2 linked regions of the Homo sapiens genome follow. The protein of the gene in region 1 purifies or fractionates together with the protein of each later gene. This does not show direct contact. Each region holds a gene or a part of one and is shown in the gene's direction. Other genes may lie near its edges.

What was found.
Region 2: the proteins of NME5 (region 1) and BTN1A1 purify together in Homo sapiens (affinity purification with mass spectrometry; one large-scale study listed by BioGRID and IntAct). This does not show direct contact.

Annotation. Positions count from the first base shown.
Region 1 is NC_000005.10:138,115,171-138,118,985, reverse strand, and holds the end of NME5 (nucleoside diphosphate kinase homolog 5), read left to right. Parts: intron 1-49; coding exon 50-168; intron 169-2,383; coding exon of another isoform or gene 2,384-2,665; exon of another isoform or gene 2,666-3,221; coding exon 3,222-3,305; 3' UTR 3,306-3,811; downstream 3,812-3,815. UniProt on the Homo sapiens protein: Functions as part of axonemal radial spoke complexes that play an important part in the motility of sperm and cilia. Does not seem to have nucleoside diphosphate kinase (NDPK) activity.
Region 2 is NC_000006.12:26,498,666-26,503,143, forward strand, and holds the start of BTN1A1 (butyrophilin subfamily 1 member A1 precursor), read left to right. Parts: upstream 1-1,637; 5' UTR 1,638-1,693; intron 1,694-2,564; 5' UTR 2,565-2,621; coding exon 2,622-2,700; intron 2,701-2,924; coding exon 2,925-3,272; intron 3,273-4,478. UniProt on the Homo sapiens protein: May function in the secretion of milk-fat droplets. May act as a specific membrane-associated receptor for the association of cytoplasmic droplets with the apical plasma membrane.

The DNA of each region.
Region 1 (3,815 bases):
GTATTTAATCATTATGTTTGCATCAATGAGAATACATTTGTATTTGCAGTGATTGTTGAGCCCATTCCAATTGGACAAGCTGCTAAGGACTATTTAAATTTACATATAATGCCAACTCTGCTTGAAGGACTCACAGAGCTTTGTAAGCAAAAACCAGCAGATCCTTTGGTAAGAAATATTTTTATTCACACTTAAGAATATTGTCACCAGGCGTGGTGGCTCATGCCTGTAATCCCAGCACTTTGGGAGGCCAAGGCGGGCGGATCCGAGGTCAGGAGTTTGAGACCAGCCTGACTAACATGGTGAAACCCCGTCTGTACTAAAAATACAAAAATTAGCTGGGCGTGGTGGCATGTGCCTGTAATCCCAGCTACTCAGGAGGCTGAGGCAGGAGAATCACTTGAACCCAGAGGCAGAGGTTGCAGTGAGCCGAGATTGTGCCACTGCACTCCAGCCTGGGTGACAGAGCAAGACTCCATCTCAAAAAAAAAATTTTTTTTTCTATAAATTGTCTGTAGTTTTCACGTTTAAGACATTGTGTCTTTGAAATACTGCGAATATAGCTGGGCGCAGTGGCTCACGCCTATTATCCCAGCACTTTGGGAGGCCGAGGTGGGTGGATCACTAGGTCAGGAGATCAAGACCATCCTGGCTAACACGGTGAAACCCCATCTCTACTAAAAATATAAAAAATTAGCCGGGCGTGGTGGTGGGTGCCTGTAGTCCCAGCTACTTGGGAGGCTGAGGCAGGAGAATGGCGTGAACCCAGGAGGCGGAGCTTGCAGTGAGCCGAGATTGTGCCACTGCACTCCAGCCTGGGCAACAGAGCGAGACTCCATCTCAAAAAATAAATAAGTAAATAAATGAAATACTGCAAATATTGAGAACCTTTTTAAAATAAACATTTCTAGAAGGTATTTCATATACATGTTAGATATGTATAATTATTGATTACTTATTATTTTCTTGCTGTGTTTTATTTATTTATTATTATTATTTTTTGAGACGGAGTCTCACTCTGTTGCCCAGGCTGGAATGCAGAGGCGCAATCTGGGCTCACTGCAACCTCCGCCCCCCAGGTTCAAGTGATTCTCCTGCCTCAGCCTCCTGAGTAGCTGGGATTTACAGGCGAACACCACCACGCCCGGGTAATTTTTGTATTTTTAGTAGAGACAGGGTTTCTTCATGTTGGCCAGGCTGGTCTCGAACTCCTGACCTCAGGTGATCCACCTGCCTTGGCCTCCCAAAGTGCTGGGATTGCAGGTGTGAGCCACCGCGCCCGACCTATCTTTCTTTTTTTTTGTAGCCATGCTAGTAGATAACACAAAATGGTTTCTCACGGTGGTTTTGATCTGCATTTCCCTAATGGCTAATGTTGAACATCTTTTCATGAGCTTCTTGGCCATTTGTATACCTTCTTTGAAGAAATGTCTATTCAAATTGAAGTCCTTTGCCCATTTTTAAACTGGGTTGTCTTTTTGTTGAGTTAAAGTTCTTTGTATTTCTAGATGTTAAACCCTTATTAGATATATGATTTGCAAATATTGTCTTCCATTTTGTAGGTTGTCTTTTCACTTTCTTGATAATGTCCTTTAATGTATAAACATTTTTCATTTGATGAAATCCAATTTATTTATTTTTTCTTTTATTTCTTGTGCTTTTGATGTCATGTCTAAGAATCCATTGTGAAATCCAAATCCAAGGTCATGAAAATTTACCCCTGTGTTTTATGTTTTCTTTTAAGATTTTTTTTCTTTCCTTTTTTTTTTTTTTTTTTTTTTGAGACAGGGTCTTTGTTCCCCATGCTGGAGTCTGGTGGCGCCATCTCGGCTCACTTCAACCTCTGCCTCCTGAGTTCAAGTGATTCTTGTGCACCAGGCTGCCAAGTAGCTGGGACCACAGGAGCACACTACCACACCCAGCTAATTTTTAAAATTTTTTGTAGAGATGGGGTCTCCCTATGTTGCCCAGGCTGGTCTTGAACTCCTGGTCTCAAGTGATCTTCCTACCTCGGCCTCCAAAAGTATTGGGATCACAGGTGTGAGTCACTGGCCTCTTTTAAGATGTTTATTGTTTAAGCTCTTATATTTAGGTCATTGGTCCATTGTGAGTTCATTTTTGTATATGGTGTGGTATAGGGGTCCAACTTTATTCATTTGCATGTGGAAATCCAATTGTCCTAGTACCATCTGTTGAAGAGACTGTTCTTTCTCCAAGTCCAGTGGTACCAATGGGCTTGGTACCATTGTCAAAAATTTGTTGACCATAGATGCGTGGGTTTATTCCTGGATTCTCATTCTTTTTTTAAAATATGAAATGCTTAATAAATTGTGCATCATCCTTGCACAGGAGCCATGCTAATAATCTCTCTGTATCATTCCAGTTTTGGTATATGTGCTGCCGAAGAGAGCACTGGACTCTCAGGTCCATTCTATTGGTCTGCATGTCTGGCATAAGGATGTCATTACCACACTGTGCTGACTACTGTAGCTTTGTAGAAGGTTTTGAAATTGAGAGTACAAATCAGTCCTCCAACTTTGTTCTTTTTCATGATTGTTTTGGCTCCTCAGAGCCCCTTGCAATTTCATATGAATTTGAGGATTGGCTTTCCATTTCTGCAAAAAAACTTGTTGGACATTTGGCAAGAGCTGCACTGAATCTGTAGATTGCTTTGGGAAGTATTGACATCTTAACAATATCAAATCTCCGTATCCATGAAAAATAATGTCTTCTCATTTATTTAGGTATTCTTTAATTTCTTTCAGCAATGTTCTACAGTTCTTAATGTATAAGCCTTTCGCTTCTTGGGTTAAATTTATCCCTTGGCATTTTATTTGTCTTTATGCTACTGTAAATGAAAGTGATTTAAAATTTTTTTTTGGACTGTCATTGCTGATGTATAGAAATACAGTTGATTTTTGTGTATTGTAACCTACATCTTCGCTGAATTTATTAGCTGTAGTGGCTTCCTTGTAAATTCCTTAGGGTTTTCCACATGTAGGTTTATGCCATCTGTGAAAAGAGATAGTTTTACTTCTTTCTTGCCAGTTTGGATCTATTCTTGACAATCTTGCATAATGTAAATCCAAATGTTTCCATTTTTAATGGTCATTTTCTTAAAGTGATTTTGAAAACTGTTTAAGTTTCCAATTGATATAGTATATATTGAAAGGAAATATGTAACTGTTTCTTAACTTAGGTTGTTTTTTTTTTTCCCATAGATTTGGCTAGCTGATTGGCTGCTGAAAAATAATCCTAACAAACCCAAACTTTGTCACCATCCAATTGTAGAAGAACCTTATTAAAAAAAAAATCCTCGAAAGAACAAATCATGAACTATCTTATTATAAAAGGCTGTACTTCTACTGTTTGAAAAAATTATTTCTAGGGTTTAAGTAACTACAAGTAAAATAAATTTATTTCTTAAAAATAAGTGTTAAAGGAATAACTATTCTATGAAGCAGATAACATTAAGGTAAAATATAGGCTTAGAGTATGATTTTAACAATGATGTAACACTAGGTAATGGAAAACTCATGTAAGATGTTGCTAGATGTTTTTGTTTTTCTTAAGTTTGAGAAGTAAGACATAAAGTTTAGTTATACATTTTCCCAAGCACATATCCTATATCTAAATACATAATTAATGCACAGTTGAGACAGTCTAGTTTAAAAGGCTTAGGTCCTTTTGTAGTCCATAAGCATGGTGATTTGGTTTCATGCTCATGTGTCAGATATGCTTCCCTCAAACCTTGTTACAGCATCATCACATTACCTGTTTGATGTAAAAAATAAAAAATAGAAAGGTGTAAGTAT
Region 2 (4,478 bases), on another chromosome or scaffold:
AGATTGCTAAGAACTAGCACCAGGACCAGTCTTGAAAACAATGGGCAACTGGCCTGAACAGCTCATTTCTAGAATGTATTAAATGTCTAATTAACACATAAAAAACTCCAGCCTCGCTAACATATAAAGGCACAATAAATAATAATTTAATTAACTTGACCCATCCCAATAGTAAGGATGTGAAATAATAACTTCTCAGTGCTAGCAGGGATTAGGTGAGGGCACCTCCATTGAGGGTGTGATGGATTCAACATTTCAGGAAGGGACTGTAGAAATATGCTGATACTAGGTCGGGCATGGTGGCTCACACCTGTAATCCCAGCACTTTGGGAGACCAAGGCAAGCAGATCATTGAAGCTCAGGAGTTCGAGACCAGCCTGGCCAACATGGTGAAACCCTGTCTCCACTAAAATACAAAAATTAGTTGGGCATGGTGGCACGTGCCTGTAATCTCAGCTACTCAGGAGGCTGAGGCAAGAGGAAAATCCTTTGAACCCTGGAGGCGGAGGTTGCAGTGAGCCAAGATTACGCCACTGCACTCCAGCCTAGGCGACAGAGTGAGATTCCGTCTCAAAAAAAAAAAGAAAAGAAAAGAAATATGCTTATACCATTTGATCTGATGACTCTATTTCTGGAAATTTATTAAACAGTTTATCAGGACATTATCCAATTTGCAAATAAAGACTTATATATAAAGTGTATTATTTACAATAGGAAAAAAATCCCAAATGTCCCACAATCATGGCAATTATACAACTATTAACAATATTTTGAGTTACACAAAAAGTCTAATTGATTGCTTTTATGATATACATAAGCATAAAATAAATCTTGGAAGGACTATGCCAAAATGTGAATTGAGGCTATCATTAGTTAGTAGATTAAGTGTGACCTCCATTTTATAAAAATATTTTTCTGTATTTTTAAATTTTTTCATAACAATGAGAGGTAGGTTTAGTATAAATTAAGGAATTGTAGGCCTCATGATGAGTTGCTTCAAAAGAAATAATTGTCAGGGAGGCAACTTTTGGGCCCTGTAAACAGAATTCACAGCCTACCCTTAAGACTGGCCTTTAATGGAGTTGTTCCAACAGACACAGCACCTAAGGTGGACGGACGCTCCAATAACGAAGATGGCTATAGACAGAGGCTACTGCTACCTTGGCCTCTGGGCTTTCATTTTTCAACCCGCAGAAATAATAATAGAATAACAATTTATCCTCCGCTGAGTTCCTACTATGTGCTAAGCACTTTACCTGCTTAATCTCACTTAATCCTCCCAACACCTCTTCAAGAAAGGTATGATCAATATTATTACCATTTTAGAGATCAAAGAACTGAGGCTTGGAAAGAGGAAATAACTGGCTGAAGCCATCACATCTCATTTGTGTGTTTCCTTGCCTCTCTTCTCTTTTTCTCTTTTCTGCCTTTCATTTGGTCCAGCTCATCAATGCATATCTTGATTTCTGAGCTGAAGACCACAAATCCAGTTTTCCATCTCTCTGAAAAACTTTTCATCTCCCTTTTTTTTTTCCTCAGAGTGAATATACCAGGCCACCTGGAGGCAGGCTTTCCTGAGAGCACCTCCCGCTTCCTTTTCCTGCTGGCTTTTAACTTTTGCCCCGGGGGCCACAGCCAGCTTTCTCACTTGGTAGCAGTGGCCTCTTGTGCCTTTTTCTCCAAGATCACCCAGGTCAGTATGTGTGGTTACTCTCAGCTCCCTGAGGGAGTGAGCAGCCAGAGGGGCATAGCATACTTCTCTCCCTCCAGCTCCTTTCTCCTTGGTCCTAGGCCCTCTACTCTTCAAGCCCTTTTGCTTGCTTCAGCTCCTGCTTCTTGCTCCATCTCCTCCCATCTTTTCTCTCTTCTCCAATTCATTTCCTTGGACTCCATTTCTGCCTTTATACCCTTATCTTTATTATCATTGCCAAAAGCAAATACCAAATTCTTGTATTTGAAAAAAGACTTTGGCCAGGCACGGTGGCTCACGCCTGTAATCCCAGCACTTTGGGAGGCCAAGGCGGGTGGATCACGAGGTCAGGAGTTCGAGGCCAGCCTGGCCAACGTGGTGAAACTCCGTCTCTACTGAAAATACAAAAAATAGCGGGGCATGGTGGTGCGCGCCTGTAGTCCCAGCTACTCCGGAGGCTGAGGCAGAACAATCGCTTGAACCCAGGAGGCTGAGGTTGCATTGAGCCGAGATCATGCCACTGCACTCCAAGCTGGGCAACAGAGCAAGACTGTCTCAAAAATAAATAAATAAATAAATAAAAAGGAGACTTTTTTTTTAGTGCAGTGATTCCAAGATTTGTTCATCGATATGCAACCAACTAATGAGTGTTATGCCTCACAGTTCCCTTCTCCTAAGTTTTAGAGTTAGAGTAGTGGGTGGGAAGGTGATAACCACAGTGTAAACTAAAAATCCATACTGGGGATGGAGGCTGAGAGGAGGTTTCAGGGGCAAATGACCAGAACACTTGCAGCTGGAAAGAACTGTAGAGAGGACTTTGGAAAGCGGAGGGTTGACAGAGCCGGTAGTTGTCTCCTGTCCATTCATCTCCTAGGCTGAAGCTCCTGAGGGGACTCACATCAGTTATCTTGCTGCTCCAGAAGGGTGGGAGATGGCAGTTTTCCCAAGCTCCGGTCTCCCCAGATGTCTGCTCACCCTCATTCTCCTCCAGCTGCCCAAACTGGATTCAGGTAAGTCTCTCTCTCTCTCTGGGCTGCATAGTTGAAATATATCAATAAATGTAAAATAAACAATCCCACTTGGCTCTCCCTGGAGACCTCCACTGGATCCAGACAAACTCAGCTGTCAAAGGAGTAAGAGAGCGCGGGGCACTGCGCTTTGGCGGGAATCTGGTCGGTGTCTGTCCGTAGTTCCCATCTCCACATCCCGTCTGATCCCGCTCGTTTTTCGGCAGCTCCCTTTGACGTGATTGGACCCCCGGAGCCCATCCTGGCCGTTGTGGGTGAGGACGCCGAGCTGCCCTGTCGCCTGTCTCCGAACGCGAGCGCCGAGCACTTGGAGCTACGCTGGTTCCGAAAGAAGGTTTCGCCGGCCGTGCTGGTGCATAGGGACGGGCGCGAGCAGGAAGCCGAGCAGATGCCCGAGTACCGCGGGCGGGCGACGCTGGTCCAGGACGGCATCGCCAAGGGGCGCGTGGCCTTGAGGATCCGTGGCGTCAGAGTCTCTGACGACGGGGAGTACACGTGCTTTTTCAGGGAGGATGGAAGCTACGAAGAAGCCCTGGTGCATCTGAAGGTGGCTGGTGAGTAGACGGGTTTTGACTTTCTCCGACGACTCCCCTGCTGTATACACTTTCGTATGGATCAGTTACTTTGGAAACCATCAGATTCATTCTCAAAATCTCTTTTAGGTTGATGTCGCCGGGGAGGGACGACTATCTGGGCGGGAGGCGAGGGGGGGTAAAAGAATTTACCAAGACAGTTGTAAAGAAAGGCAGATTTACTTTTAAAAGTATGAAAATACTTTTCGAGGAGGCAAAAGGCAGGATCAGCAAAAGAGAAGCTGACTGCCAGGAAACAAAGGCTTGCTGGATAATTTATAGAATAGTTTTTATGCTGTCTGTTGAAGATGGCTTTGTGCAGTATCTATAAGGCAAAGGTTGCAGTGAGCTAACTTGCAGGTGTTTGGTGATAGTTGGACACAGGAAGGATGACTGTGAGTTATTTGCACAGGAGGGCTGTGTACTGGACCATGAAGAAAGGCAGACTTGCAGCTTATCTGCCTTATCTCTTTGTTTTCCCCTGATTAGGACTCCACAGCTAGAAGGTACTGAAGGTCCTACAGTAGGAAATCAGTGAGAAAGGGTTTTGAGTTGAACATGGAGAGAACAGTGCAATGTCTTTATTGTAGAACTTTATTTCAATTATCTCCAGCCCTTTTTCAATAATAGGGTAAGCATTTCTTCATGAAATAATTAAATACATATAAGAGTTATATAACATTCTTTTATACAAGTACACCATAATTTACTTCATCGAGTCCCTGAATTGTACATTTAAATTGTATTTCTCACCATTACACATCTTATGGCTGTGGTGAGCATACCACACACTTTAAGGCTGGCTTATGGATTAGTTTCTAAAGACTGACATCCTAAGATTAGAGAGCATGGCGGTTTGTCACATTCCTGATTCATATAGAAAAGATTCTGTTCTTGTTCCCTTTTTTGCTTCAAGCCAGAATTCAAAGGGAAACAATAAAGAAAATAATAAGCTTTGAGGAGGAAAGTACGCATTGAGGTCTGACTTTCTCAATTCCTAGTGAATGACATCAAGCAAATCTCTTTCTGATTTTTACTGTAAAACTGAGGATGTTTTTATCTAAGATTATTTTTCAAGAATAAAATAGTCTGGGACCAGTGGCCAACTCCTATAATCTCAGCGCTTTGGGAAGCAGAGGCAGGAGGATCTCTTGAGCCAAGAAATTCAAGGTTACAGTAAGCTGATGG